6 separate regions of the Homo sapiens genome follow, and all the other regions are reported to be linked to region 4. Evidence: microRNA targets listed by miRTarBase, many of them from high-throughput screens and not tested one by one. Region 4 holds a microRNA gene; each other region holds the end of a gene's coding sequence.

Region 1 (5,085 bases), not on the chromosome of region 4:
CTGGCTGTCTTTGTTGAATTTCTTTTCTTTTTTTTTTTTTTTTTTTTGAGACGGAGTCTCGCTCTGTCCCCAGGCTGGAGTGCAGTGGCGCTATCTCGGCTCACTACAAGCTCCGCCTCCTGGGTTCACACCATTCTTCTGCCTCAGTCTCCCGAGTAGCTGGGACTACAGGCGCCCACCACCACGCCCGGCTCATTTTTTGTATTTTTAGTAGAGACGGGGTTTCACCGTGTTGGCCAGGATGGTCTCGATCTGCTGACCTCGTGATCCGCCCGCCTTGGCCTCCCAAAGTGCTGGGATTACAGGCGTGAGCCACCGCGCCCGGCCCTTGTTGAATTTCAATGATTTTCCAGGTGAGGAAACAAAAGCTCAGAGAGGCTAAGTAATTTGCCCCATGTCTCAGCCAAGAGACAGCAGAGTCAGGATTTGAACCCAGGCAGCCTGGCTGCAGCATCCATGCCTGTCAAGGTGGGGTGGAAGTGGACAGGTGATTATCCTCGCCACTCTGGCCCCAAACTCCGCCACCCTGACCGTCTCCATGCCTCCGGCCCCAGGTGTTCTCCCGGCCCGGCTGCTCAGCCATACGCCTCCGAAATCATCTGTGCTTTGGTCATTGCTCCTCTCTCTACATCCCTGGCTCGGACCCCACCCCACTAGTCCTGTGCAACAGCTGTATGCCTGCTCGCAAGCGTTGGGCACCCGTGGTCCTGTGGTGTCTCACTGGCAGCTCAGCCTCCCGTCGACGGGTGAAGATATCCACCATGCTGATCGAGGGGTGTCACTGCAGCCCAAAAGCATGAACTGAGCATCGTGGATGGGTGCACGGAGACACGCACCTTGGAGAAATGAGGGGAGATGGACCAAGAAAGACGTGGACCTGGATGATGTACTCTGGGTCAAGAGACCAGGGATGCAGGGTTAGGCAGACAGGTCCCCAGAGTCCTCACCCTGCTCCCCAGACAGTAGACACAGTGCCCGTCCTGGAGTTGCACCACTGATAGTCACAGCACACAATGATTGACAACTCACTTTTTTTTTTTTTTTTTGAGATGGAGTCTCGCTCTGTCGCCCAGGCTGGAGTGCAGTGGCGCAATCTCAGCTCACTGCAAGCTCCACCTCCCGGGTTTATGCCATTCTCCTGTCTCAGCCTCCCGAGTAGCTGGGACTACAGGCACCCGCCAACACGCCCGGCTAATTTTTTGTATTTTTAGTAAAGACAGGGTTTCACCGTGTTAGCCAGGATGGTCTCTATCTCCTGACCTCGTGATCTGCCTGCCTTGGCCTTATTATTTTTTTTTTTTAAGGACAGAGTCTCTCTCTGTCACCCAGGCTGGAGTGCAATGGCGCGATCTTGGCTCACTGTAACTTCCACTTGCCAGGCTCAAGCAGTTCTCCTGCCTCAGCCTCCTGAGTAGCTGGGACTACAGGCACCCGCCACCATGCCCAGCTAATTTTTGTATTTTTAGTAGAGACAGAGTTTCACCATATTAGCCTGGCTGGTCTCAAACTCCTGGCCTCAGGTGATCTGCCCACCTCGGCCTCCCAAAGTGCTGGGATCAAATCCACTGTTAATCATTAGGCTGAACTGTCTCTTATAGAATGAGGTCAAAGACACTCCCAGTTGCAGGGAGGGTAGATGGCCCCACCCAGACCGAGAGACACAGTGATGACCTCAGCCTAGGGACACCAAAAAAGAAAAAAAAAAAAACCCAAACCAAAAACGCAAACCAAAGCAGGCAGGCAGACAGCTGCTGGGGGAAATCCTGGGGTCCTTGAGACAGAGGCAGGACCCTCGTGTTCCCAGCTGCCTCTTGCCTTGATAGTGGTGCTGTGTCCCTCTCAGACCCCCCACCTGAGTCTCCACAGAGCCCCACGCCTGGCATGGCATTCCACAGAAACCATAAAGGTTGGCTGAGTCCAGCTGTCTATATGTGCATCTGTTTGTTCCTCCAACTGGGGTTCCCTGGGAGTGGGTGGCCCCATGACAGGGTGTGGGCATCTGAGTGCTCCCTCCCCAGCTGGGGCTCAGGGTCTTCAGCGGGCGAGGGCGGCCTGGCTTTGGGCGGCTGGAACCAGGGCCCTGGCAGATGGGCCTGTCTGGCACAGACGCAGGGACATGTGGCGTTGTCAGTGTTGCCTCCAAATGCCCCCCGGAGCGTGGGGCGGGGAGCCGGCCAGGCCCTTCTCAGCCCTCTTCCTGCCTCAGGAAGGAAGGCCTCAGGTGAGGGGAGCAGGAGGGGACCCGAGGAAACAGATGGGCCAGTGGGGCGTGGGAGCCTGAGACCCCTGACCTCACAGGCCTCACAGAGAGATGGGAACGGGACAGGCAGGCAGCTCCCAAGGCCCCTTGCTCGAAGGGCCCTGGAGGGGAGGGTCATGAAGGGCTCTGGGGGGGCTGCCCCATCCCTGTTCCCTCCAGAGTTCTGTGCCAAACCCCAGGCAGTGTCCGAGTGGGCAGCTCAGCCCTGGCACCATGGGCAAGCCCCCCTCTGGTGGGCATGAGGCATTTGCCTTCCCTCCCTCTGCTGTGCCCACCTCCTGCCAGCCAGGGGAGCCAGCTGGGAACCTTGGTGCCAGGGGAGCCCCCAGAGTCCCTGTCCCCTCCCGGGCAGTGCCAGCCGGCCCCTGCCCCGCCCCCCCAGGCCCAGTAATGGGTGGGTAATGAGTGCTGGGGGAGCGGGGGAGGGGCAGGGGATGCAGGTGCCACAGGCGCTGGCACGGGGGCCGCTAATCAGGTTTGCCAACGCCATCTGTCACCGCACGAGCATCTGGGGCTCAAGGTGACCCTGTCACCCTCAGTTACAATTATGAGTTTGGCATCTGTATTAAAGCCCGCCAGCCGGCCAGGCGGGGGACGGCTGGGGTGGGCACGGGGTTGCACGGTGAACCCCATCCCTGGGGTACCCTTCCCAGGGGCTGCGTGGCTGCCAGGCGTGGAGCTTCTTAGGGGACTATGTCTGTGTGTGTATGTGTGTGTGTGTGCACACCCATCCCAGTCTCCACAATTCTTAAAGTGTGTCCGGGTGCAGGGCTGGAAATCATAGGTTTGTGTGTGTCTCCATGGTGGCTGTGTGTCTAGGAGTTTGGTGGGCTGGCTGGGGGCGGAGCTCTGAGATTTTGTGGGTGCACAGATGTTCGTGCATCTGCATGCTGGGACAAGAACGTATGGAGGAGGGTGTCTCTTTGGATGATGGTGTGTCTTTTTCTTTTATTAGTAGTATTAATTATTATTCTTATTTGAGTCAGGGTCTCGCCCTGTCACCCAGGCTGGAGTGATCATGGCCCGATCCCTGCAGCCTCAAACTCCTGGGCTCAAGTGATCCTCCCTCCTCAGCCTCCCGAGTAGCTGGGGCTACAGGCTCATGACACCACGCCCAGCTAATTTTGTTTATTTTTTTGTAGAGACAGGGTCTCACTGTGTTGCCCAGGCTGGTCTCGAACTCCTGGGCTCAAGCCATCCTTCTGGTTTGGCCTTCCAAAGTGCTGGGATTATAGGCGTGAGCCACCACACCCAACCTGATGGGGTGTGTGTGTGTGTGTGTGTGTGTGTGTAAATGCACAGGGGTAGGTTGGGAGGGGTATCAGCTTTGGGAGAGGCCATGTGCAGTACTGCTGAGCTCCTCAGCTATCCCTTTGTTTCTATCTTCGCCAACTCCTGCTACGTGGCTGTGATCTGGAGGGCTCTGAGGACGGCTTAAGAATCTGGATTTTGGCTGGGTGAGGAGTCTCACGCCTGTAATCCCAGCACTTTGGGAGGCCAAGGCAGGTGGATTCATTGAGCTCACAAGTTCGCAACCAGCCTGGCCAAAATGGCAGAACTATGTCTCCACAAAAATATATTAAAAATTAGCTGGGCGCCGGGCGTGGTGACTCATGCCTGTAATCTCAGTACTTTGGGAGGCTGAGGCGGGTGGATGACCTGAGATCAGGTGTTCAAGACCAGCCTGGCCAACATGGCGAAACCCCGTCTCTACTAAAAATATAAAAATTAGCCAGGCGTGGTGGCGCGTGCCTGTAATCCCAGCTACTTGGGAGGCTGAGACAGGAGAATCGCTTGAACCCAGGAGGCGGAGGTTGCAGTGAGCCAAGATGGCGACACTGCACTCCAGGCTGGGCGACAAAGCAAGACTCCATCTCAAAAAAAAAAAAAAAAAAAATTAGCTGGGCATGGTGGTGTGTACCTGGAACCCCAGCTACTCAGGAGGCTGAGGTGGGAGAATGGCTTGAGCCTGGGAGGCAGAGGTTGCAGTGAGCCAAGGTTGTGCCACTGCTTTCCAGCCTGGGTGATAGAGCCAGACCTTGTCTCAAAAAAAAAAAAAAAAAAGAAAGAAAGCTCTCAATTTTGTAAGGTAGCCTTTGGATTCTAAATTCTTGGAGCTAGATTCTGGGTCTGGTGGATTCTAGTTTTGAGCAATAGGATCTAGATTTTTGGAATCTGAATCCCGGAGTATGGTTTCAGTGGCACCATCATAGTTCACTGCAACCTCAGACATGTGCCACTACACCCAGCTAATTTTTAAGTTTTTTGTAGAGATAAAGTCTTGCTATGTTGCCTATCGTGTCCCAAACTCCTGGCATCAAGTGATCCTCACGCCTTGGCCTCCCAAAATGCTGAGATTATAGCTGTGAGCCACCACGCCTGGCTGAGTTCGTGGATCTGGAGTATAGATCTTGGTATGATTGGAATCTTTTTTTTTTTTTTTTGAGATGGAGTCTCACTCTGTTGCCCAGGCTGGAGGGCAGTGGCGCAATCTCAGCTCACTGCAAGCTCCGCCTCCCAGGTTCAAGCGATTCTCCTGCCTCAGCCTCCTGAGTAGCTGGGATTACAGGTGCCCACTACCACACCCAGCTAATTTTTATATTTTTAGTAGAGACGGGGTTTCGCCATGTTGGTCAGGCTGGTCTCGAACCCCTGACCTCAAGTGATCTGCCTGCCTTGGCCTCCCAAAGTGCTGGGATTACAGGCATGAGCCACCGTGCCCAGCCCGGTATGATTGGACTCTAGATGCTGATCCTGGGTCCTGGGATCTGGATTACCGGCTCTTAGTTCTGTATCTGCGTTCCTGCTTCTGGACTTCAGTCTCT
Region 2 (5,085 bases), not on the chromosome of region 4:
CTGCAGCCCGCCGCGCTCTCGTCCAGCGCCGCCCAGGCCGCGCTCCCCGGCCACCCGCTCTACACCTACGGCTTCATGCTGCAGAACGAACCGCTGCCGCACAGCTGCAACTGGGTGGCAGCCAGTGGGCCGTGCGACAAGCGCTTCGCCACCTCGGAGGAGCTGCTCAGCCACCTACGGACCCACACGGCCCTGCCGGGAGCCGAGAAACTTCTGGCCGCCTACCCCGGGGCCTCGGGCCTGGGCAGCGCCGCCGCCGCCGCCGCCGCCGCCGCCTCCTGCCATCTGCACCTCCCCCCGCCCGCCGCCCCCGGCAGCCCCGGGTCGCTGTCCTTGCGGAATCCACACACTTTGGGCCTAAGCCGGTACCACCCCTATGGCAAGAGCCACTTATCCACAGCGGGGGGCCTGGCCGTGCCGTCCCTCCCCACAGCCGGACCCTACTATTCGCCATACGCGCTGTATGGACAGAGACTAGCTTCAGCCTCGGCGCTGGGATACCAGTAACTACAGCTCTTCCTCCACCCCAGCCCCCTCACCCTCCTCCCTCTCCCTCCTCCTCCCTCCCCACCTGCCGTCGCCGCTGCAACCTCCACTACTGCTTGACCCTGCCGGGATTCCCCACCCAGCCCTTCCCCACCGGACTGTGTATTTATTTACTATAATGTTAGCTTACAAGCTGGGAATATAAGTGCATTAACGGCCCACATGAGTCAATGGTATGCAAAAAGTCTGTGTTCTCCCAAATAATAATATTAATCCCACAAATAACGACATGATCCCCGCCCCTGTTCCTTTCTGTTATTTTTTCTTAGATATAAGTTTTACATTTTTTATTCCTTTTCCTCTTTTTTTGGTTTTGATTGGTTTGGTTTGAGGGAGAGTTGGGGTCTTTGGGTTCTTCTAGACGTTTTGTTTTCCCTTCCTGGGGAGTTTCTTGCATGAGTCTTAACTTAAAACTACGTTTCCGCCTTCTCTTTTTCCCTCTTCCCCCTTCATTCCCTCTTGTTTCCTTCCATTTGCGGTTCTGTTTTTGTTTTTTGTTTTGTTTTGTTTTGTTTTTTCCTTTGTTGTACAAGTAACAGAGAGGAGGTTTTTTTTGTAACTCATTTTGGGGGTGGAGGGGGCCACCTGGGTGGCAGGGGCCCTGGAGCTCTATTGACCTGGTACACTGCTCCGGGACTCCTCCCCCGCCACCCTCCGCGCATAGGGTCCTTGGTCTGGACCCTGCCCCCCAAAAGTAGGGCCTTGCTCCTCTACCTTGCTCTGAGCACGGAGAGCCCTGACCCCACCAGTAGGCTCGCCCCCAGAAGGGCCCAAGTGGCCGTCTACCGTCACCTTCCAGACTCCCGCCCCTAACACCCAGTGGCTACAGTGCGCCTGTCGGGGCACCTGGAGCGCTCACCTGGTTGAATTCAAAGTCCCAGAAGGCCCCGCTGGCGTGAAGCCGGCCCCTTACATTTTGCGAAGTGCATTATAGTCCTTGTTTTTCTCTCCCTCGTGGGGGCAACGACCCCTCCCCTGGCAGTAGGGGTGGGGTAGGTGACTCTCGCTAGATCCCTCCAAAGCAGACCGGTGGCGATGTCAGCGGATGTCACGAGCTCGTTAGCTGCGTTCGGGGAAGGTTGGGGCGTCAGGGAGCTCTCGGATCACAGCAGCCCCCGCCCTCTCCTAGGCCTGGCCCGGCAGAGCCCCCAGAGTGGACCCCCCAGCGACTGGGGTCTTCTCCCCACTCCTCCCTCCTTCTGGTCTGATGCGGCAGCGCGGGGGCTGCGGGGCCTGTTTGGGACGAACAGAGCTCTCCCTTGGTAAGACTTATTTTGTTAATAAATGGAATACTTGGCTATATTCACACCGTGGTGTTTTTCTCTCTTGCCTCGCCCACCCTCTTCCAGACACCTAAGCAGATGCCCTTCTTTTATTCTTGTTTAAAATGCCTTATGGTTTCCTTCTGTGATTTCCGTTCAAGGACGAGTTTAATGCCTTTCCTCAAGAAATGGGGGAGAAAAAACAAAACTTCTGCCAACGCATTACAAATAACATAAAACCACCTTTTAATTTTTTTCCCCAGTTGGTTATGTAGCTCCCAGCCTCACTTCAAAGGCCTTGACATTTCCTGGGGCCAGGGTGGAGGGTGTGTGTAAAAGTGGATTTTCCTCTGGGCCCAGATGCGACGTGCTAAGGGGGCTAAGAAGGGACCCCAGGACCCCAGCACCAAGGGCTCCGGCAGAGACTCCAGCAGCGCAGTCCTGGAGCCCGGCGGCCTGGCGGGCAGAGACGAAACGCCTTTGGCGCCACCTGGTGGCAGGAAGACGAGCGACAGGCCTCGGAGAGAAGGCGCAGCCCGCACTAGCCCCGACGGCACCTTGGTTCTTCTCATCTTCTGAACGCGAAGGATTCCTACCTGCTGTTTTTGTGGGGCGTTTCCTCTCTCCTGACCAGAGGGTAAAGGCACCTGCTGAGAGGGTTGCTTCTCAAGGCTTGGGGGCTCCCCTCAGCCATCGCTGGGTTGTCGACCTGGGTCATCTGCGCCCCGGAAACTTCGAAACAGGGTTTGGGTTTTGCTGAGAAGATGCGACGATGACTCAAGACCTTGAAGCCATTCTCAGTCCGGAGGAGCCGGGCCCCTGGGCCTGGCTCGTCCATTTTCTTGAGCTCGCACGACTGACACTGGCCTCTGCATCCTCGGGCAAGAGAGGGCGGGTGCTGTTTACTGACGTGTTGGCCAGGGAGCCTGCCCCCTGTACCATAGACAGGCCCTGCGCGAGTGTCCAAGGCGGGAGGAGAGAAGGGACAGCTCTGGGAGGCCCAGCCACGTCCAGCCCAATGCAGACTCGCTGCCCTACCCCCAGCAGCGAGAGCGGGCTGCGCCCGCCAAGGCACGGCGGCTCAGACTTCGGCTGCCCGACGCCAGGACCCCGCTCCATCGGGCCGGGGGCGCTTGCTCCCTGCGCAAGGGCCTGGGCGCGCGGGGCCAATGGGACGCTCTGCAAAACCGCCTCCTGCGCCGCTTCCTGGCCGCGCTCCTCGTGGGATCTGTCGTTGGGGTTGTGCTGTTTGCTTTTTCTGTAAGGAATGCGACTTGGGAGTTCGTGCTCTGAAAGGTGCATGCTTTTGAAACGTCTGTGGCCCGAGGTCAAGTGCAGTGCGTAGGATGGGGCCGGTTTCTCTGCGCTGTTTTTGGTTGTCCACAAACTCGACGACAGACAGGGCGTGTGTGTGTGTGTGTGTGTGTGTGTGTGTGTGTGTGTTTGTGTGTGTGTGTGTGTGTGTGTGTGTGTGTGTGTGTGTGTGTGTGTTTTACCAAATCTTTGGATCTAGCAAAAGGAAAGGGATCCTGGGGTGCTCCTACCACTGGGCACTGGGAAACCCGAATTAGAGAAAGTGCCCTGAGACCAGATCAGGGTCTTCCTGGGAAACCAGCATTATCCAATTTCTCGGGGTTCAATCTGGCCCGAATCTTTAAACGAACTAAATGTAGCGACTCGTGGCTTTATTGTTTCTTTTTCTGTTGTTTTGTTCGTTGTTTATTATTTCTTTGCCATCTTCCCTTCCTCTGAAGGCCCCTCTTTCCTTCAGAGACCCACCCCCTCACTATGTTTTTTAATGCCTGCTAAAAATGATGGAAATTGCTCCCTCTGTAGGGCGACTTAAACTTTGCTTTCTTACACTTCAAGTCTTCAGACCTCCCTATCTACAAACCAAAGGGCTCCTCTTGTTGGGAGGAAGGAAGGAAGGGACGCACAACCAGCAAATTCCCTATACCAAAAGAAACTGTTCTAAAAGGTGTTTGGCTTATACCTTAGGTGTAAGAATGCAGTTAGAGAACTCCTTAGACTACAGAGTTTCCCCCATAAAATGTATTGGTGGCCTTTGGTGACTGGGAAGTTCACTGTTGGGCCTGGTGGGAATAGGCTGCCCCCAACTACCATTGTGGCCGCAAAGGGCAGGTCACATAGTCTGGAGTGTCCAGTTCTACTCTGAAAAGATGGCTCTCCCCACCTAAGAAATGTGACAGTTTTAATAAGCTGATGAAAAGTTTGTTACTTTCAATAGCTTAATTCCCATTAAACAAAGTTGCCATCTTAATGGAGGTGGTGCTCCCCTATCCAGTGCTTATTTGAATAATTAATGCCTCCAGCAACCCTTTCTTTGAGGGTCACCTCCACCTTCCATTTCTCCACCTCCTCTTCCCAGCCCTCCTCCGCCTCTTTCTCCTAATCTGTCCCAGGCGCCAGAAATGGGGCCGGTGTTCCCAAAGCACCAGGAAGGGTGGAAGCCACAGGGCTGGAACTTGAGACACTGGACGTTCCTGGCTCCAGGTCCTATTTTCACACCTCTTGCCTGGTTATTTTTGTGGCCTTGTGGCAGCCATGGGAGGAAGGGAGGAGGAGAAAGAGGGGAAAGACTCACCCTTGGATATAGGCTGGACTCAAACAAAATCATGTGGTGTTAAGTTTTTAACTTCCCAACTGTACACCCGCAAACCCATCTCCTAAGAAATTCATAGCCCAAGCGGGAGGTGTGGGGCCCTTCCCCATCTTTCTGCAGCCATAATTGCTCTGCCCTACCTAGCATACTGTGATTGTATCTCTGGGTATATGAACTAACTCCCTCCTGATGTATGTCTGGGTTACGGTGGAATTCATCTTACAATAATCCTGTGGCTCTACACTTTATTAATCATTCTGTAGGGGAAGCTGCACTCCAGTTTTCTGTTTGATTTGATTTCATTCATCCTGTCTTTTTGCAAAATAGATGGTTGAGTGCATCCGATAATGTATGGTTTAATTTGGAGCACTATGGGTTTGAATTACCATTTTCATAATGTGCTGTGCATTAATGTGTTACATCATTTACAAAGAGGAATGTGCCGGGTTTCAAACTTTCTCCTGAAAGCCAAAGTCACCTAAAGGAAACAAAGCCAAATCACATCAACCCATCTTCTTACCTCCCTGCCAGAGAGCCTCCTGCCTCCCCAACCCCAGTTAAATCTGCCAAAGCTCATAAAACCCAACATGAAGCCTTTGTATTCACATAATGCAGGTGGGTGTCGAGGTTTGGGGGAAACTTTGCACATGGCTG
Region 3 (5,000 bases), not on the chromosome of region 4:
GCGATCTCGGCTCACTGCAAGCTCTGCCTCCCGGGTTCACGCCATTCTCCTGCCTCAGCCTCCCGAGTAGCTGGGACTACAGGCGCCCGCCACCGCGCCCGGCTAAATTTTTGTATTTTTGGTAGAGACGGGGTTTCACCGTGTTAGCCAGGATGGTCTCGATCTCCTGACCTCATGATCTGCCCGCCTCGGCCTCCCAAAGTGCTGGGATGACAGGCGTGAGCCACCGCGCCCGGCTCTCCTGTGTTTTGTGTCCTGTTGCTCAGCCCCCAGCCCGTGCTCACCGGAAATGCCGCTGAGCCCCCGGCCCGTGCTCACCGGAAATGCCGCTGAGCCCCCGGCCCGTGCTCACCGGAAATGCCGCTGAGCCCCCGGCCCGTGCTCACCGGAAATGCTGCGGAGCCCCCGGCCCGTGCTCACTGGAAATGCTGAGCCCCCGGCCCGTGCTCACCGGAAATGCTGCTGAGCCCCCGGCCCGTGCTCACCGGAAATGCTGCTGAGCCCCCGGCCCGTGCTCACCGGAAATGCTGAGCCCCCGGCCCGTGCTCACCGGAAATGCTGCTGAGCCCCCGGCCCGTGCTCACCGGAAATGCTGCGGAGCACCCGGCCCGTGCTCACTGGAAATGCCGAGCCCCCGGCCCGTGCTCACTGAAATGCTGAGCCCCCGGCCCGTGCTCACCGGAATTGCTGCTGAGCCCTCGGCCCGTGCTCACCGGAAATGCTGAGCCCCCGGCCCGTGCTCACCGGAAATGCTGCTGAGCCCCCGGCCCGTGCTCACTGAAATGCTCTGGCGTATGACCTGTAAGGCTCACACCTGTAAGGGGCGTTTGTGGTAGCCTAACAGCACCTGTGGATGGAGTGGGCACCTTTCATTAATCTTTGTTACTCATTGCTGCGTAATGAATCACCCCAAATTTGGTAGCCTAGAACCACAACTGTCATTTATTCAGCTCCTGAGTCTGCACAGCAGGAGCTGCCGTCAGCGCAGGCATCGCAGCTGGTGCCCAGTCCAGAGGGTGAGCGTCCCGCAGGGGCCCTGCCTTGGAAGGAGCTCCAGTCCCGCAGGGGGATGCGGATTCTACCTCTCCATCTGCCTCTGCGGCGGGGAGTGGAACCATTATTGTGGCTTTTTTTGGGAAACAGGCGATTTGCCAGGATTCATTCCTGTATTGATTCATTGGTTCATTGATCACCTATCCTAAGCCCAGCTCAGTGCTGGGAAACTGGGAGACAGGAGTGGTCTCTGCCATCGTGGAACTTGTAAAAATTTAAAAATTCTGTTCCCGGCCAGACACGGTGGCTCATGCCTGTAATCTCAGCACTTTGGGAGGCTAAGGTGTGTGGATTACAAGGTCAGGAGTTCAAGACCAGCCTGACCAACATGGTGAAACCCCATCTCTACTAAAAATACAAAAATTAGCCAGGCACGGTGGCACGTGCCTGTGATCCCAGCTACTCAGGAGGCTGAGACAGGAGAATTATTTGAACCTGGGAGGCAGATGTTGCAGTGAGACGAGATTGAGCCACTGCACTCGAGCTTGGGTGACAGAGCGAGACTCCGTCTAAAAAAAAAAAGAAGGCCAGGCACGGTGGCTCACGCCTGTCATCCCACCACTTTGGGAGGCCGAGGCAGGCGGATCATGAGGTCAGGAGATCGTGACCATACTGGCTAACACGGTGAAACCCCGTCTCTACTAAAAATGCAAAAAATTAGCTGGGCGTGGTGGTGGGCACCTGTAGTCCCAGCTACTCGGGATGCTGAGGCAGGAGAATGGCGAATGGTGTGAACCCAGGAGGCGGAGCTTGCAGTAAGCCGAGATCACGCCACTGGACTCCAGCCTGGGTGATAGAGCGAGACTCTGTCTCAAAAAATTAAAATAAAATAAAATTCTGTTCCCGTGTGTGGTGTTAGAATAGAGAGTAGTTTTCTTCCTCAGTTCCCGGATCATAGCTCCTGAAGCCCTAGTTGCAGTCTTTTGCTGCACTGCTGAGCTCGTTAGGCCTCAGGAAATAATCTCCCGCCCTCCTCTGGGCTGCAGAGCTCTAATCTTACCTTTTCGATTACGGGTCTTGGGACCCTCCCCAAAGAGGGTCCTGCCCTATACCCCTGGGGAAGTAATGCTGACATCATGAAGCTTCCATAAAATCCCTAGGCCGCGTGTGGTGGCTCACGCCTGTAATCCCAGCACTTTGGGAGGCTGAGGTGGGTGGATCACCTGAGGTCAGGAGCTTGAGACCAGCCTGGCCAACGTGGTGAAACCCCGTCTCTACTAAAAATACAAAAGTTAGCCAGGTGTGGTGGTGGGCGCCTGTAATCCCAGGTACTCAGGAGGCTGAGCCAGAAGAATCGCTTGAACTCAGGAGGGGGAGGTTGCAGTGAGCCGAGATTGCGCCACTGCACTCCAGCCTGGGTGGCAGAGCAAGACTCCGTCTCAAAAATGAACAAACAAACAAAAAACCACGAAACCCTAGAGAACTGGGTTCTGGGGAGCTTCCAAGAGCTGAACATGTGGAGATGCCTGGAAGCTCTGAGATGGTGCCCTGTGCATCCTCATGGCACTCCAATCCCCACCCTACACGTACCTCACCTGTGGTCCCTTCTTCTGCTATCTTTGCCACATCCTTTATAGTAAACCAGGAAACACAAGTGTTTCCGAGTTCAGTGAGCTGCTCCAGCAAATTAATTGAACCCAAAGGGGTGCTGGGAACCCCAACTTGAACCCGGCCAGACCGAAGTCCTGGAAGCCCAGATTCGCAACTGGTGTCTGAAGAGGGAGAGGCTCGGGGACTGAGCCCTCGGCCTGTGGGATCTGACACTATCTCTGGGTAGAAGGCGTCAGAGCTGAATTAAGAGGACACCCGGCTGGCGTCTGCTGGTTGGTGTGTGGGAAAAAACGCTCCCACATGTGGTCACAGAAGTCTTTTCTGTGTGGATGACTGTGATGTGGCGGTGACAGCAGGGGAGAAACAAGGCTTGAGTGTTCTCTATGTCCGATTGGACCCCCTCCACCAGAACAGGCTGTGGGGACTCCCATTTAACAGGAGACACTGAGGCCAAGGGAGTGAAGTCACCTGCCAGCAACTGGAGCTGGAGTTCTGGATTCACTTTTTATTTTTTTATTTTTTTGAGACGGAGTCTCGCTCTGTCACCCAGGCTGGAGTGCAGTGGCGCGATCTCGGCTCACTGCAAGCTCCGCCTCCTCGGTGCACGCCATTCTCCTGCCTCAGCCTCCAGAGTAGCTGGGACTACAGGTGCCCGCCACCACGCCCGGCTCATTTTTTGTATTTTTAGTAGAGACAAGGTTTCACCATGTTAGCCAGGATGGTCTCCATCTCCTGACCTCGTTATCCACCTGCCTCTGCCTCCCAAAGTGCTGGGATGACAGGCGTGGGCCACTGCGTCTGGCCTGTTTTTTTTTTGTTGTTGTTGTTTTGTTTTTGAGACAGGGTCTCACTCTGTCGCACAGATTGGAGTGCAGTGGCTCAATCTCGGCTCACTGCCACTTCTGCCTCCTGGGTTCAAGTTATTCTCCTGCCTCAGCCTCCTGAGTAGCTGGGATTACAGGCGCCTGCCACCACAGCCCAGCTTTTTTTTTTTTTCGTATTTTTAGTAGAGACAGGGTTTCACCATGTTGGTCAGGCTGATCTTGAACTCCTGACCTCAAGTGATCCGCCGCCTTAGCCTCCCAAAGTGCTGGGGTTACAGGTGTGAGCCACCACGCCCGGCTGGATTCGCTCTTGCAGTCTGAGAAGTGATTCTGGTTGGTGGTGGTGGGCACTGGGGGATACCGGACGACCCTCCCCACCGGTGGCGAGTGGGCTGCGTTCTGGAGCAGGCCGGGCGCAGATCCCAGCTGAGCCCTTGCTGAGGGTGTAACCTCCGCTGCCTGGGCCTGGGAATCAATCACATGAGGCACTTCAGTTCCTGGGAAGTGTTAGGGCTGTTGTCTCACCAATGTCACTACCATCTGCCCAGCTGGCCTCTTCATTTGACATCTGGGGAGACTGAGGCTCAGGGAGGATACCTGGGCCGGGCGGGGCTGGAGGGCCCGGGCCCTGCGTTCCAGAAGAGCCGCCTGCTCTCCGGCTTCAGGCTCCGCAGGGCCCCGTGGGGCGTCCCCCTCCGCTGCTCCCACCAGGCCGGGTCCAGGGGTCCCGGCGTTTCCGGCCTCGAATCCAGCCTCCAGTCGCCGCGGTTCCGGGGCCGTGGGTGACCTGCTGGGGAAAAGCGTCTTCTGCGGGCACCGGGGCTGGGAGGCGGGCGCTCGCATACACACCAGCGTCAGCCTCGCAACACATTTTATTAGCGTGGGGCAGGGGCTCCCGCGGGGGTGGAGGGGCGGCCGCGGCGCTGTGTGGGGACCGGGCGTCCGCTTCCTGGGAGCCCCGGCCTCCTCCGCAGGGCTGGGCGCCTGGTTATGGCAGGGCCTCACCAGGGCGAAGGGAAGGCTCCGCGCGCCCCGCACGCGGGGACCCCCCAGCGCAGATCCCGGATCCGCGCGGCCCACGGGCCTCAGCCCACCGGCTTGACCTTCGCGATGAAGAGCGCGGCGGCCCTCTCCAGAAACTCCTCGCGGGTCATGGGCGCGCTGGGCCGCCGCCCCCCGACGGCGCGGTCCAGCGCCAGCGCCAGGCTGTCGGGCCCCAAGCGCGAGCCGGCCTCCAGGAAGCGCGCGGGCGCGGCGGCGTCGCTGGCCTGCAGCGCGCCCTCCAGGGTGTCCAGCACGGCCTGGCCCACGCGGCGGTCGGCCACGGCGGCGGCCGAGTCCTCCAGCAGCTGGAAGAGCGCGCCGGCGCGCGCCACGAACTCCAGCAGCACGAAGCAGGTGAGTGTGCCCGCGCGGAAGACGCTCAGCGGCACCGCCTCGTGGTCACGGCACTGCACCTTGCGCAGCAGCGGCGCCACCACCTCCTCGGGGGCTTGGCCGTCCCGGCAGATGCGCCTGAGCAGCTCGCTGTAGGTGCGCCCGTCCAGCCCCGGCCTCTTCCTGCGCCCGCCG
Region 4 (5,085 bases):
GAGGCCAAGAACTACTTTGACTTCGACCTCGAGTGGTGCGTGCGGGGCAGGGGCGGTGGGGTGGGTGGGATTGGGCAGATGAGGCGGCCACCACCTGCTCCCAGATGGCGTCTAAGGCCTGTGGTCATAGGCCAGGGAGTCAGAGAGAAGAGGGAGCAGCTGTGGAGATCACTGGGTGCTGGAGGGTGAGGGCAGCCGGGAGGCTCCCGGGGGCCGGGTGGGGCAGTGTTGGGGGCCCGGGCTGGACAGCGTTGGGGAGCTGGGTGGGGCGGTGTTGGGGGGGCCCGGCGGTGCTTGGGCTGCTCAGGCCCCCTGCTCCCTCCTCAGTGAGACCGTGGACCAGGCTGTGGAGACCTACGGCCTGCAGAAGATAACGCTCCTGCGGGAGATCTCGCTGAAAACAGGGATCCAGGTGGGCATGGCTCACAGCATCCCCGCTGTGTCCCCGCTGTGTCCCCGCTGCGTCCCTGCTGCAGGCTCCCACTCCTGGCCAGGGCCACAGGGGAAGTGGCTTTTTCACGGTAGCCGTCTGTGCGCAAGCGTTGGTGGGTTGGGAGGTGCCAACCCGCTGAACCTGGGCCTGAGGCTTCCTGTGGTGGGGGGGCTGCCCCCCAGGTCCTGCTGAAGGAGTACAGCTTCGACAGTCGCCACAAGCCCGCGTTCACCGAGGAGGACGTGCTCAACATCTTCCCCGTGGTCAAGCACGTCAACCCCAAGGCCTCGGATGCCTTCCATTTCTTCCAGAGCGGGCAGGCCAAAGTGCAGCAGGGTGTGTGGCCAGGTGGGGCTGGGTGGAGGTGGGGGTTCCCCATGGCCCGTCCTGACCTTGCCACCCCTGGGGGTGCCCTGCAGGCTTCCTGAAGGAGGGCTGTGAGCTCATCAATGAGGCCCTGAACCTGTTTAACAACGTCTACGGAGCCATGCACGTGGAGACCTGCGCCTGCCTGCGCCTCCTCGCCCGCCTCCACTACATCATGGGCGACTACGCAGAGGTACCCTCTGGGCTGTGGCAGCAAAGGCCTGGCCTCGTGTTGGGGGATGGGGAGTGAGGGGGCCCCTGACGGAGGAGTGGGTGGAGTCCAGGGAGACCCCAGGAAGTCGCTGGTTCTGCCCAGGCCACCCCTGGCTCCACCCCTCTGTAACTGTGTCCCGAGCGGGAGAGCTCAGGAGCACCCTGTGCTGCGGTGAGGTCAGTTCTGGGAGGCGATGGCAGGGGACCCCCCCACAGGGCGTCAGCAAGGACGCCTCCTGAGACTCCGTGAGTGGGCAGGAAGCATGCCACCGAGCTCCCACGTCCTCTGTGCCCAGTGCAGGCTGTGGGGTTCTGGGTGCCCTGCCTGGCCGGGGCTGGTGGAGGCTGTGGTGGGGTTCTGGGTGCCCTGCCTGGCCAGGGCTGTTTCAGGGTTAGCATGTCTTAGGATCCCTACTCCCTGCAAAGGGACTGTTTTTTCTTCTGTTTATAAATGGGTGGGTTGTTTGTTTGTTTGTTTGTTTCTGAGACAGGGTCTTGCTTTGTCACCCAGGCTGGAGTGTAGTGGCGTGATATCGACTCCCTGCAGCCTCAACCTCCTGGGCTCAAGCGATTCTCCCACCTCAGCCTCCCGAGTAGCTGGGATTACAGGCGTGAGCCAGCACACCCAGCTAATTTTTGTATTTTTAGTAGAGATGGGGTTTCATCATGTTGGCCAGGATGGTCTCAAACTCCTGACCTCAAGGGACCCACCCCTGCTCAGGCTTTTTTTTTTTTTTTGTAACATTTTTAGTAGTTTTAGGTTTGTATTTGGGTGTTTGTGGAGATTTTGTTGGGTGTAAGACATGGGTGTGTGGAGCTCTCTGTGGAGCGTGACCTGCCCTTCAAGGTGTGGCAGCAGCTGCTGCTGATCCCCCTCCCCCCTGCTGCACTGTGCTGGGCGCAGCCGGAGGGGACAGGAGCCTGCAGAGCGGCACCGTGGGCTGCTGGGCCGGGGCCAGGCGGGCTCTGGGTGCAGTGGGGGTTCCCACGCCGCGGCAACCACCACTGTCTCTCCCCAGGCCCTGAGTAACCAGCAGAAGGCGGTGCTGATGAGCGAGCGGGTGATGGGCACCGAGCACCCCAACACCATCCAGGAATACGTGAGTCGCGAGTGCCGCCCGCGCCGGGGGATGCGAGGGGCTGGGTCCGCGGCCACCCTGACCTGTCTCCGCCCCGCCCGCAGATGCACCTGGCCCTGTACTGCTTCGCCAGCAGCCAGCTGTCCACCGCCCTGAGCCTGCTGTACCGCGCCCGCTACCTCATGCTGCTGGTGTTCGGGGAAGACCACCCCGAGATGGCGCTGCTGGACGTGAGTGCTGGGGCGGGGGGGCGGCAGGGACCCAGCTCCATCCCAGGGGACCGGGAGCTGACCAGGGCCCCCCACCGCCTGCCCCCAGAACAACATCGGGCTGGTGCTGCACGGGGTGATGGAGTACGACCTGTCGCTGCGCTTCCTGGAGAACGCGCTGGCCGTCAGCACCAAGTACCACGGGCCCAAGGCCCTCAAGGTGGCCCTCAGGTGAGGGGCCGCCCGTCCAAACGCCAAGGCCGGCGGAGGCCTGCGGGGCAGCCGGCGGGGGCGGGGAAGAGACCCAGTGCTCCTGTCTTCCTCCACCCGAGAAAATTTCTCTCGACCTCCCCCTCTTCCCTGAGCCCTGGACTTGCTGTTCCCCTCGGTGGCTTCCAGGGAGGGATCTACGGGAGACCCCGGGCCCCCGAGTCAGGCCCCCACACCCAGCCCACTTATGCCCTTCCCTCGCCCCGCGCCGCGCCTCCCGGCAGCCACCACCTTGTCGCCCGAGTCTACGAGAGCAAAGCTGAGTTCCGGTCGGCCCTGCAGCACGAGAAGGAGGGTTACACCATCTACAAGACGCAGGTGCGCGGCGGGGGCGTGGCGGGGGCGGGGGCGGGGCGGGGGCGTGGCGGGGCGGGGGCGGGGCCGCGGGGGCACGGGGGGGCCTGATCCCTTCCCGCCTCCCCGCAGCTGGGCGAGGACCATGAGAAGACCAAGGAAAGCTCCGAGTACCTCAAGTGCCTGACCCAGCAGGCCGTGGCCCTGCAGCGCACCATGAACGAGATCTACCGCAACGGCTCCAGCGCCAACATCCCGCCCCTCAAGGTGAGTCCGGGGCGGAGCGGCCCCTCCGGCCCGGCGAGCGCGGGAGCCCCGCTCACCGCTGGTTTCCCCGCCCCGCAGTTCACGGCCCCCAGCATGGCCAGCGTCTTGGAGCAGCTGAACGTCATTAACGGCATCCTCTTCATTCCTCTCAGGTGAGGCCTCCGCCCCACTCGAGTGTCTCCCGGTTGGGGGTTTTTTGTGAGTCGGAGTCTCGCCCTGTCACCCGGGCTGGAGTGCGGCGGCGCCATCCCGGCTCACTGCAGCCTCCGCCTCCCGGGTTCAGCGATTCTCCTGCCTCAGCCTCCCCAGTAGCTGGGATTACAGGTGTCCGCCACCTCGCCCGGCTCATTTTTGTGTTTGTAGTAGAGATGGGGTTTCACCACGTTGACCAGGCTGGTCTCGAACTCTTAACCTTGCGATCCGCCCGCCTCGGCCTCTCAGAGTGCTGGGATTCCAGGCGTGAGCCATCGCGCCCGGCCCGCCCCGCTTATCTTCCCCAGCATCCTCGCATTCCGCGAGTGAAGACCTTGGTGTTTCTGCTTCACACAAAGTATCTTGGCGTTTTCCCACCAGTCCCTAAGAAGCGGCTTCATTCCCTCCCCACGCTTCCCATCCTGCGGCGGGGGGGGGCTGAGGAGCAGGCCCCGGGCTCCCCGGGGTGGCCACAAGCAGTGTGGCCTCCTGTGGGGAGTGGATTTGGTCAGCAAGGCGTGGCAGCAGCCCCCCAACTCCGCTTTCCTCCCCCTGCGCTGGAGGGAGGCCACCGAGGGCAGCGAGGGGAGCCCCGAGGCCGGGTCAGGTGCGGGGTCCTTACCTTCTCCGTGTTCAGGGACCTTCCGCCTTCAGGAGGGAAGCGCTTGTTCACACACATTCCCCACTGAATAGAGCGCAGAGCCTGAGCTTATCCCACAGGAAAGCCGGGAGGCGGGTGGAGCCCCCAGGACTCCTCTGAGAGCCACCTCCATCCCCACCCTTATCCTCAGCCAAAAAGACCTGGAGAATCTGAAAGCCGAGGTGGCGCGGCGGCACCAGCTCCAGGAGGCCAGCAGAAACAGGGATAGAGCCGAGGAGCCCATGGCTACCGAGCCCGCGCCAGCGGGGGCCCCAGGAGACCTGGGCTCCCAGCCCCCGGCTGCCAAGGACCCTTCTCCGAGCGTGCAGGGATAGAGAGGGAGCCAGACGGACAGCCAGCCAGCGGCCCCGTCACCAGGGAGCCCGACTGCGGGAGAAGGGGGCGAGCCTGCGGGCGGAAGAGGAAGCAAGGCCCTCTTCCTCCACGTCTCACCCCACCCCACCCCCGTGTCCTCCTGGGAGCCTGGCCTGCCTGCCCCGCAGAAGGTGTTTTTGCGCTGGTTCAATGAATAGATGATGCAGAGGCCCCATTGGAGACACGTGAATGGCGTGTGCGGCCATCAGTTCCCGGCTGGGGGGCAGGTGTTGCTTCGGCCCCCGCCGTCCGGCCGGCGTGTGCGAGTGCGCCCCTGGCTGTGAGTGTTGACCGTTCCTCTCCCCTGTACATAGCCCGAGCCAGTCCTGAGTGGGTGACTCCTGAGTGGGTGACGCGCAGACGGGATTTCTCAGGTCATTTGTATGGTCGACATGATGGCTGCTGCTTTGGCTGCCACCACCCCCGGGCCCAGCCTGTCTGAAAGTTCAGGGTTTAGGCCGAAAAACCCGGTGGGGAGGGGTGGGGAGCCGGAGCTCTGTGGCGGGGCTGGAGGGCTGGGGTGCACTTTAGTTTGGGGCGGGACGGGAGCCGCCGTTGTGACTGGCGTGGTCTGGCTGCTGCTCCCGAACGGAGGGGTCGGGGTTGGCTTGCTGGGCCCTCAGAGCCCAGTGGGTGGCTCTGACTCGGCTCCCTACTCCCTGCACCCAGCTGGGCGCAGCCTTGGGGCCTGCGGTCTGAATGTATCCCTCCCCTCAGTTTTAACCTGAGCTGCCGAACGCACAGTGG
Region 5 (5,085 bases), not on the chromosome of region 4:
ATTTCAGGCACCTTTTTAAGAACTAGAGATAACCAACAAAGTACCTGACCAAAGGATCTTTGCCCAGGTAGGAAGATAACAGCTATAATCAGATGGGATAACTATTGCACTAGAACCACGTACAAGGCTCAAGGAAGCAAAAATTACAGACCCAGGTGTGAATGTCAAGGAGCATCAGAGAATGCTTCCTGGTAGGGGTGGTTGCTGATCGGGGTTTGGAAGACTTATGATGGGATAGGATACGTGTTGCCATACAGCAGGTCTGCCCTGTGCAGTCTGTCGGTTGTACAGTGGCATCCTGCCAACAAGGTGAGTGGGAGTGGAAATGGAATCTTTGCTCAGCTCACCAAGCCTTAACAGGGGCTGCATTGGCAGGAGGAAGGGGATTCGTTTTTTGTGGTTGTTGTTGTTGTTGTTTTTGCCAAAAGTGCCATCTGCTTGCCAAGCCTTGAACACTGCCAGGCCGCGTCCTTCAAAGGCACCTTTTTTTCTCTCAATGATCTACCCAGAGCACCTTTTTTTTTTTTTTTTTTGAAATGGAGTCTCGCTCTGTCGCCCAGGCTGGAGTGCAGTGGCGCGATCTCGGCTCATTGCAAGCTCCGCCTCCCAGGTTCATGCCATTCTCCTGCCTCAGCCTCCTGAGTAGCTGGGACTACAGGCACCCACCACCACACCCAGCTAATTTTTTGTATTTCTAGTAGAGACGAGGTTTCACCATGTTAGCCAGGATGGTCTCAATCTCCTGACCTCATGATCCGCCCTCCTTGGTCTCCCAGTGCCGGGATTACAGGCGTGAGCCACCGTGCCGGCCTGAGCACCTTTTTAAAGCCAGCAGTAGCTCTAGGGCAAGGAAGGGTAAAGAGAAGGAGGCAGGTTTCCAGATGGAAGAACTAGATTCCTGCAGTTGCAAGTAGTTCTGCATTGCTGGAGCACTGAGTGTATGAAGCCATCATGTGTACAAAGGACCTTGTCTGAAATGACTAAGGAGTGTGACTTTGATCTTGAAGAAAGTAGGCTGTTGGTAGATACAGGTGGCTTGAGGTGAATATAGGGATATTTGCTTTTGGAGAGGTCCTTCAAGATGCTACATGGACGAGGATGGTCTAGCGCAGTGGTCCCCAACCCTTTTGGCACCAGGGACCGGTTTCATAGAAGACAGTTTTTCCAGGGTGGGGGCGGGAAGGGGGGGTGGTTTCAGAATGATTCAAGCGCATGACGTTTATTGTGCACTTTATTTCAGTTATTATTACACTGTAATAGATAATGAAATAATTATACAACTCGTTATACTGTAGAATCAGTGGGAGCCCTGAGCTTGTTTTCCTGCAACTAGATGGTCCTATCTGGGGGCGATGGGAGACAGTGATTGGTCATCAGGCGTTAGATTTTCGTAAGGAGCATACAACTTATATTCCTTGCATGGGCAGTTCACAATAGGATTCACCCTCCTATGAGAATCTAATGCCACTGCTGATCTGACAGGAGGCGGAGCTCAGGTGGTAATGCTTACTGACCCACCACTCACCTCCTGTTGTGTGGCCTGGTTCCTAACAGGCCACAGACAGGTGTGGGTCCATGGCCCAGGGGTTGGGGACCCCTAGTCTAGTGTGAAACAGGGAAGCCTGTTAGAAAGGTATGTAGTGACCCATTCAGCCCCAAGGGAGCCCATGAAGCCATGGGGATGGTGAAACTATATAGTGCATCACCGGGAAGGTATTATGGTTAACTTAGAAGCCACAGTTTCTAGGATAGTCTTGCTTTTATCATATTCTGTCTGATGTTTGTTCTCATTAGAACATAGATTTTTATTTCCAGCAGTGTTAAATAAGATTAGGGGTATGTGTGTGGGTGTGTGTGTGTGCGTGTGTATGTGTTTTGAAGGGAAGATTCAGAAGTTCTGAAGGCAGGATGATCAATTTGGGAAATTGTTCAAGGGGCTTATTAGAACCTACCTGAAGGGAACGTTTTTCTAGGACACAAAACACCGGTGCAAATCCACTGTTGAAAATGTTCTCCAATGTCTATTGTGAAATGGAGAGATTTTGAGTTCAGCTCCTTTCGGGAGGGGAGGAAAGAATCCTCTCCAAGGCAGCTTCCTCTAGCAGTTTCCTGCCTCTTGTGGGATGAGAAGATTTGCTGTCTAAGATATTATCATATTTATTTGTATTTTGCTGAGTTCTTTTACTGGATGTAAGGCAGTCCAAATGTTATTTGGAAATCTCCTATCAATCAATCATGCAATTTAGATAGAAGTTAGTTCCATACAGTGTGATCTCTGACTTGCTAAGGTTTAGAATAAACTCAAAGGGCAATGTGGCACAGTTATTAAGGTTTGAGAGTATGCCCATCTGTGCTCTGACTCTACACATCCACTGCGAGAAGAAACATCCATATAACACCAAAAACACTATATGAAAATCTTGTTGCACAGTAGGCCACCCATCAATATTACAGCTTTTCTTTTTCTTTTGATGTTCCAGGTGACCTGCAGGAAATGTAGAAATCAGGAAACTGACATACAAAAGAAAAAGTTAGTAGCAAATGGAAACAACTTTATAAAAATATAATATGGTATATAGTATAAAAATTATACTACAGTATACTTTTTACTTTATAAAAAGTATACCATAAAATAGTTTTAAAACTATTTTTATACTATATAAATAGTATAAGCAGTATAAAATAGGCTGGGCAGGATGGCTCATGCCTGTAATCCTAGCACTTTGGGAGGCCGAGGCAGGTGAATCAACTGAGGTCAGGAGTTTGAGACCAGCCTGGCCAACACGGTGAAACCCTGTCTCTACTAAAAATACAAACCCTGTCTCTACTGAAAATTAGCTATGCGTGGTGGCACATGCCTGTAGTCCCAGCTACTTAGGAGGCTGAGGCAGGAGAATTGTTTCAACCCAGGAGGCAGAGGTTGCGGTGAGCCGAGATTGCACCACTGCACTCCAGCCTGGGCTATAGAGCAAGACTGTCTCAAAAAAAAAAAAAAAAAAAAAGGATAAAATAGTTTTAGGACATAGTTTTATATCTAACATGATATGACACTGAGTTATTGTGTAAAAAGTTATTTTAAAATATAAAAGTAAATTCTTTGAACTAAGACAATGAGAAATTAAATATAAATGTTTAAGACCAAACTTAAACCTAGAAAAAACATCATCTCAAAATGACATGTTTCCCATGGCATAAGAAGCTGCTACAACTTTTAAGTGTGTAGGTGGTGGATTTTGAAATCTTTCTAGATTTTTCTTTCTTGAGAAATCTGGGTTTATCTTGAAAACCCTGAATTAGAAAAATTAGATTGATTTCATTCAGCGGCAAACACAGGAAGATGTATACTGAATCATATTTCTTAAAAATCTCAAATTTAGAAGATTGTGAGGTTGAATGAGGTCATCTCCTGAAGCTTCTATAGCAGGAATGCCGATCCATGATGAAGGACAGGATTGCATTTATTTTCTTTAGATGATCTACCATTGAACAGTAGAGACAGGGTCCCTCACGGTCTGTATCCAAACAGAACCCGGATTTTTACAGACTGATCGAGGCATAATGCTCAGAACTACATCTCTTTAGAGGCTCACTTTGCAAGGAAAAAAGAAATCATTCTGCCCTAGAAGGGGGCTGTAGGAAGTATTCACAATGAGTCAATTAATATCAAGATCTCCTGTTCCAGGAAACTGTTACTAAGTATTACAAAGGAAATTTTATGTGCTCACATAAGTTTAGAAAACACTGGCTTAAAGCTGGTATAGAATTATTCTTTCCTAGAGAAATATTTACAGCATTCACTATGCTAATATGAATTGTGATCCCTAGACAGAGGCATCTGATGTGAAGTAAGTCTCAAACTTATTTGACTATAGAACTTATTTTTAAAGTCCTCTGAAGGGACCAGTGTTTTGAGGAAAACATTATGGGAGGTATGGGACTGGATCAAAAGCTAATGAGGATATTGTAAGGGGTATTGTCCTGGTGTGGAGTGGCTGCAGCACAACTTGAAGAGATCAATTTCTAGAATTTCATCCCACATCTGCTGAAATCAGTCATTTAAAGGTAGGGCAGGAGATAGCTCCATTTTAAATAAATGTCTCAGATAATTCTCATGTCCATTGAGGGCAGAGGTCCCACCAGTGCAGAGATGGGTTAAGAACCGCTCAATGATGTAACTTCCTAGGTCACTGTCAGTCACAATGCCATAATCCTTTTCATAAAGCCCTTTCTACTCCCAGCACTCTCTTCAAAGTATTCTTCACTTCTGAGTTCCTAAGACTACAGATAAGGGGATTGAGCATGGGATTAAAGAGGCTGTGAAACAGCAGGAGATATTTCTTCTGCTCCTTGGGGTTCCCATATCTGGGTCCAACATACATGATAATGGCTGTGCCATAAACGAGTCCAATCACACAGAGGTGGGAGAAGCAGGTGCGGAAGGCTTTCCTCTGAACTTCCCTTGATTGGATCTGAAGGATAGCACAGAGGATGCACATATATGAAACTACAATTGTGGACAAGGGTCCCACCAGCCCAGAAATTGCTCCGGCCAAGACCATGTTCTCATTGATGTGGGTATCTGCACAGGCAAGTTTGAGAACAGCCAAGATTTCACAAAAAAAGTGATAAATTTTCTGGGGCCTACAGAAGGGTAAAGGTAGAAGTAACACAAGATGAATCAAGGATAAAAGGACTCCAGTGGTCCAGGAAGTCACCGCGAGGGTGATGCAGACTCTCCAGGTCATGATGGCCAAATATCGGAGGGGGTGGCAGATGGCCACGTACAGATCATAGGACATCACCACCAGGAGGAGACATTCTGTGACAGCAAAAGTGGAAAACAGAAAGGTCTGCATCATGCGGCCCGCAAAGGAGATGGGCTTGGCTGGATGCAGGAGGTTCACCAGCATCCGGGGCACCGTGTTGCAGGCGTAGGCGATGTCGACGACCGCCAGGTGTGAGAGGAAGAAGTACATGGGGGCGTGCAGTCTGGAGTCCAGTGAGATGAGCCCCAGTATGGTCCCGTTCCCCAGCAGGGTGAAGACGTAGAACAGGGAGAAGAGCCCAAAGAGGAGCATCTGAATC
Region 6 (5,085 bases), not on the chromosome of region 4:
ATGGCTTGAACCCAGGAGGCGGAGGTTGCAGTGAGCCAAGACCGGACCACTGCACTCCAGCCTGGGCGACAGAGCGAGACTCTGTCTCAAAAAAAAAAAAAAAAAGAAAAGAAAAAAAGAAAACATGCACACTGAGGCTGGGCGTGATGGCTCACGGCTGTAATCTCAGCACTTTGGGAGGCCATGACAGGTGGATGGCTTGGAGCTCAGCAGTTCGAGACCAGTCTGGGCAACGTGGTGAAAACTTCTCTTTACGAAAAACACAAAAATTAGCCGGGTGTTGGTTTTGCTTGCCTGTAGTCCCACCTACTTGGGAGGCTGAGGCTGGAGAATTGCTCGAGCCCGGGAAGCAGAGGTTGCAGTGAGCTGAGATTGTGCCACTGCACTCCAACCTGGGTGACAGAGTAAGACCCTGTCTCAAAACAAAAAACAAAAAACTTGCACACTCAGACTCCAACCCTGTACATTTGGGCTTAGTGTTCTATGGGCTGTGGTGACTTTGAAAGAAAAACAATGGTACAGCCTCCATGGTAGGGACTTTGGCAGTCTCCATGAACATGACAGAAGCAAATACTCTTTGATCTAGCAATTCTGCTTCTAGTTTATTCTGTAGACTTTTGTGTGTGTGACAGTGTGCAACACTTTTTGAGAGTAAAGGATTGGAAGGAAGCTACCTGTCCATCAGTGGGGCCTAGATAAACATTAATAAATATCACCCCCATATGGTAGACCAGGGCATTGTAGGATGTTCATTAGCACCTTCCTTGGTGTCTACCCATAGATGACAGTATCCTCTCTCCCCCTCCAGTTGTGACAATCAAAAATGTCTCCAGACTGCCAAATGTCCCCTGGGGGGCTCAGTCATCCGTGGTTGAGAGCCACTGTCTTTTCTTTTTTTTTTTGAGACAGAGTCTCGCTCTGTCGCCCAGGCTGGAGTGCAGTGGTGCGATCTCCGCTCACTGCAAACTCTGCCTCCCGGGTTCAAGCGATTCTCCTGCCTCAGCCTCCTGAGTAGCTGGGACAACAGGCGCATGCCCCCATGCCCAGCTAATTTTTGTATTTTTAGTAGAGATGGGATTTCTCTATGTTGGCCAGGCTGGTCTCAAACTCCTGACCTCATGATCTGCCTGCCTCAGCCTCCCAAAGTGCTGGGATTACAGGTATGAACCACTGCTCCTGGCCATGAGAGCCGCTGTCTTATGTACTCATATGGAGTTATTGCTATACATTTTTTTTTCTTTTTTGAGGCAGGGTCTCACTCTGTCCCCCAGGCTGGAGTGCAGTGGTGTGATCACAGCTCACTGCAGCCTTGAACTGGGCTCAAGGGATCCTCCTGCCTTAGCCTCCCAAGTAGCTGAGATCATAGGTGTACACCACCACACCCACCTATTTTTTTATTTTAATTAATTTTTTGTAGAGGTGGGTTATTGCTATGTCACCTAGGTTTGTCTTAAACTCCTGGGCTCAAGTGATCCTCCCTACTTGACCTCCCAAAATATGGGGATTATAGGTGTGACCCACTGCACCTTGGCCCTCTCTAGGATATTTCAAGGGGAAAAAAGAAAAGCACAGAACAGCATGAATATATTATGCTGCCATTTAAATAAAAAAAAAAAGGAGGGCCAGGTATGGTGGTTCATGTCTATAGTCCCATCTACTCGGGAGGCTGAGGCAGGAGGATTGCTTGAGGCCAGGAGTTTGGGACCAGCCTTGGTGACATAGTAAGACCTTGTCCCTTAAGAAAAAAGGAAAGAAGGAATATATACACACATGTACATATATATATGCTTTTTGTTCTTGATTTTATTTTACATAATTGCATGTATAAACTTTCTGATGGATTGATTTTTCCTTTCTGTCCCGATTATCTAGCCTCTGATGTGCTCAAGAGCTGGATCTGCTGACTTATCAAAAAAGTGACATTTGGCCAGGCACGGTGGCTCACACCTGAATTCCCAGCACTTTGGGAGGCTGGGGTGTGAGGATCACTTGAGCCCAGGAGTTTGAGACCAGCTTAGGCAACAAAGTAAGACCTGGTCTCTACAAAAAATAATTAGCTGGGCATGGTGGTGCACATCAGTAGTACCAGCTACTTGGGAGGCTGAGGTGGGAGGATTGCTTGAGCCCAGGGGTTCATAGCTGCAATGAGCTATGATAGTGCCACTGTACTCCAGCCTAGGTGACAGAGTGAGACCCTGTGTCCAAAAAAAAAAAAAAAAAAAAGGCCAGCCACAGTGGCTCACACCTGTAATCCCAGCACTTTGAGAGGCCAAGGCAGGTGAATCACTTGAGGTCAGGAGTTCGAGACCTCGAGACCAGCCTGGCCAACATGGTGAAACCCCGTCTTTACTAAAAATACAAAAATTAGTCAGGTATGGTGGCACACACATGTAGTCCCAGCTACTTGGGAGGCTCAGGCATGAGAATTGCTTGAACTCAAGAGGCGGAAGTTGCAGTGAGCAGAGATGGTGCCACTATACTTTGGCTTGGGCAATAGAGCAAGACTATCTCAAAAAAAAGAGAGACATTTAGTGTTTAGGAAAGATAACCAAGAAACTGGCAATTTTGGTTACCTGTTGGAAGGGCAACAAAGGTGGCCAGGGGTGGGAGAGAAATTCATCAGTATACCTGCTTCTATACTCTTTGAGAATAAATTCTAATAATTCTAATGGGCACTCAGGTTTGAGAAACACTGCTCTAACGCAGCAATAATTACCCTGTCTGATCATTTCTTTTTTTCGGCAATCTGGAAGCAGAGTCCATTCTAGATTCTGCAAATTCACCTGATGGTTTCTTTCTTTCTTTTTTTTTTTTTTTTTAGATGAAGTCTCACTCTGTCGCCCAGGCTGGAGTGCAATGGCACGATCTAGGCTCACTGCAACCTCTGCCTCCTAGGTTCAAGGAATTCTCCTGTCTCGGCCTCCTGAGCAGCTGGGATTATAGGCATGCACCACCTCGCCTGGCTAATTTTTTTGTATTTTTGTAGAGATGGGGTTTCACCGTGTTGGCCAAGCTGGTCTCGAACTCCGGACCTCAAGTGACCCACCTGCCTCGGCCTCCCAAAGTGCTGGGATAGCAGGCGTGAGCCACTGTGCCCAGCCTCACCTAATGGTTTCTTAGCAAACTTCAGTAGAATGTTTAGAACGCGGCCCTGATAAACTTGAGTGCTGGTAGGAGGTGCTACCTCGCTCAATCTGTGAGCAACCAGCCCTGTGCCCTGGATGCTTGGCGGGTGGAGAGAAAGACAGTGTTATGTGGGCAAGCCTCCAACTCACCAGTTGCAGTAGAGCATCTGGCTCTCTGTCTGCTGCTATAGCCCTGTGAGTCAGCCAGACGTGTGGTCCCCAAGCCAGCTTCCCACCTAGCACCCTTGTTCTGCTACAGCTCCCCCACCTGCCCTCCTGCATTGCCTAGGATCCCACGCCCCGCTTTCAGTCTGCTCTGGGACATCTGTCTTCTTCTTTGCAGGGGACTAAGTATATGACTTAATGAATCCTAAAAGGAAAAAAAGATGTCAGGAAAAAAAAGTGCACACAAGAAATGTTGCAACATCTCATCCTTAGCAACTTTGTTTGGTTAGTACTGCATAACTCACAGCAGATTCCAAGGCACCTGCCTTGAACATTGCTACATGCTCTAGGCATTATCAGGAACGCAGCCAGGGTGCCTGCAAAGTTGTCTCCAGTTTCTGGGTAAGAGGACCATCATCCATATTGTCTGTGGCTTTGTGTCTGAGTTGGGCTACTGAGCCTGTGACTTCAGACCCCTTGTCTGCCTGATGGATACATTCTGTATAATACGTTACCATCACAATTTCATGAATGTAACTAATGAAGATCTAGCCCTTCCATGCCTCCTGCTGAACTATGTCACCTGTGATAATAAAACCTCTACACATAGCATTTTATACAAAGCAAGTCAAACAGCAATGATAGTGGCAAGTGATGTATTTGGCTTAAAGAAGCTTGTGTTACTGAAGTTAACGCAGAAGTCTGGCCTCCGTTTGTGGGATTATTAAATATATATCCTACGGGATCAGAGTCATCTATTAGAAACAGTGATAGCCCTGGGTATAAATAAACATTTCTTTAGAGTTTGGCGTCAGTTTTTCAATGTCCATCCTCAAATCAGACAGTCTGTTTGAGGGGTCAGTTTTCAGGGTGCATCTGCACCGAGAGGCTTGAGGCAGCAATGACCCCTGGGCTGCAGTTCGGTTGCAGGCGCTGGTGGCGGGCAGTCCAGGTTGGAGGGTGGAGATGGGCCAAGGTCACAGATGCTGCAGGGCTTCCTGTCCTTGCTCTGTGTAACCGTCATCGCGGTGGGTGTTTGCCCACTGTCCAAAGGACTCCTGGATGTGCACGTTTCTCTGTGTGTTGGCCAGGCGCTTCTTATCTCGGGAGAAGAAGCTAAACCTTTGGAAGGGAAAGCAAACACAGAAATGAGAGCTGACCCTTTGCTGTGCAAGTCACGTTTTTTGCAATGCCGGAGACATATAGCAGCAAACTTAGAAGGGAGCAAATCAATTCAAGGTGTGAAAGACAAAGTTGGGGGTGCAGGTCAAAGTTATTCCAAGAAAGCAGCAGGGTATTCTGCGTGTCATTTGGACACGGTACCTTGGAGGTCACGCGGTATGGGCAAGGCATGCATGCTGATGTGATGTGTGAGGTGTCTTCCACGTTAGCCGCTATGGAGGATTTATCCCGTTACCAGTGGAAATCAAAAGCTGCTGAAACAAATCTTGGGTTTCTTTAATTACCCTAATGACGCAGAGAAAGGAATACTTGAAAACCGTGTGGAATATAAGAGGATTCTGTTGTAAACGAATGAGTATTTCTAATTTAAATAGTTCTGTATTTGTTTAATGTCAGTCAGGAAACTGTGGCCCAGATTTCATGGACATTACTGCTTAGATGAGGCTAAAGGAAGTACTTAAGAAAAATGAACAATAAAACATATACTATGGGCTGAGCGCGATGGGTCACGCCTGTAACCCCAGCACTTTGGGAGGTCGAGGCAGGCAGATCACTTGAGGTCAGGAGTTCGAGACCAGCCTGGCCAACGTGGTGAAACCCCGTCTCTACTAAA

Evidence for each region. The annotated mature microRNA hsa-miR-6776-5p reads UCUGGGUGCAGUGGGGGUU and lies in region 4 at 1,978-1,996, shown strand. An mRNA with a match to its seed (bases 2 to 7 or 8) in the 3' UTR can be bound and repressed. Matches are read on the target gene's strand: a 7mer-m8 pairs with bases 2 to 8, a 7mer-A1 pairs with bases 2 to 7 and ends in A, and an 8mer does both.
Region 1: miRTarBase lists DAND5 as a target of hsa-miR-6776-5p. Seed matches in the 3' UTR shown: 7mer-m8 at 1,323-1,329 and 8mer at 1,644-1,651.
Region 2: miRTarBase lists ZNF703 as a target of hsa-miR-6776-5p. Seed matches in the 3' UTR shown: 7mer-m8 at 623-629 and 7mer-m8 at 1,360-1,366.
Region 3: the mRNA of TPGS1 is a reported target of hsa-miR-6776-5p. The part of its 3' UTR that is shown has no 7-base or 8-base seed match.
Region 5: miRTarBase lists OR2A4 as a target of hsa-miR-6776-5p. The part of its 3' UTR that is shown has no 7-base or 8-base seed match.
Region 6: miRTarBase lists RILPL1 as a target of hsa-miR-6776-5p. Seed matches in the 3' UTR shown: 7mer-A1 at 3,688-3,694.

What each region holds. Positions count from the first base shown.
Region 1 is chr19:12,972,835-12,977,919 of GRCh38, forward strand. DAND5 (DAN domain BMP antagonist family member 5) reads left to right here. Exons shown (of 2, transcript NM_152654.3): 2 at 555-1,926. The coding sequence ends at 800. Among named protein-coding and RNA genes, the nearest start is that of DAND5, 5.8 kb to the left of the region's middle. RefSeq lists an enhancer at 1,598-2,104.
Region 2 is chr8:37,698,168-37,703,252 of GRCh38, forward strand. It overlaps ZNF703 (zinc finger protein 703), which reads left to right. Exons shown (of 2, transcript NM_025069.3): 2 at 1-1,852. The coding sequence ends at 507. Among named protein-coding and RNA genes, the nearest start is that of ZNF703, 4.9 kb to the left of the region's middle. RefSeq lists an enhancer at 980-1,491.
Region 3 is chr19:518,937-523,936 of GRCh38, reverse strand. TPGS1 (tubulin polyglutamylase complex subunit 1) reads right to left here. Exons shown (of 2, transcript NM_033513.3): 2 at 4,283-5,000. The coding sequence ends at 4,514. Among named protein-coding and RNA genes, the nearest start is that of CDC34, 10 kb to the left of the region's middle. RefSeq lists an enhancer at 4,573-5,000.
Region 4 is chr17:2,689,807-2,694,891 of GRCh38, reverse strand. MIR6776 (microRNA 6776) reads left to right here and starts at 1,973; the gene lies at 1,973-2,031. It overlaps CLUH (CLUH binding protein of NUMT mRNA), which reads left to right. Exons shown (of 26, transcript NM_001366661.1): 16 at 1-35; 17 at 328-412; 18 at 616-769; 19 at 853-992; 20 at 2,032-2,112; 21 at 2,196-2,321; 22 at 2,410-2,531; 23 at 2,795-2,888; 24 at 2,997-3,131; 25 at 3,210-3,283; 26 at 4,115-5,085. The coding sequence ends at 4,298. RefSeq lists enhancers at 2,666-3,173, 3,174-3,682.
Region 5 is chr6:131,696,255-131,701,339 of GRCh38, forward strand. OR2A4 (olfactory receptor family 2 subfamily A member 4) reads right to left here. Exons shown (of 1, transcript NM_030908.2): 1 at 3,390-5,085. The coding sequence ends at 4,215. All of the region lies in intron 15 of ENPP3 (ectonucleotide pyrophosphatase/phosphodiesterase 3), which reads left to right. Among named protein-coding and RNA genes, the nearest start is that of OR2A4, 2.6 kb to the right of the region's middle. RefSeq lists enhancers at 4,247-4,832, 4,833-5,085.
Region 6 is chr12:123,468,271-123,473,355 of GRCh38, forward strand. It overlaps RILPL1 (Rab interacting lysosomal protein like 1), which reads right to left. Exons shown (of 7, transcript NM_178314.5): 7 at 1,784-4,412. The coding sequence ends at 4,268. It also overlaps a transcript of SNRNP35 not described here. Among named protein-coding and RNA genes, the nearest start is that of SNRNP35, 13 kb to the left of the region's middle. RefSeq lists a silencer at 532-826.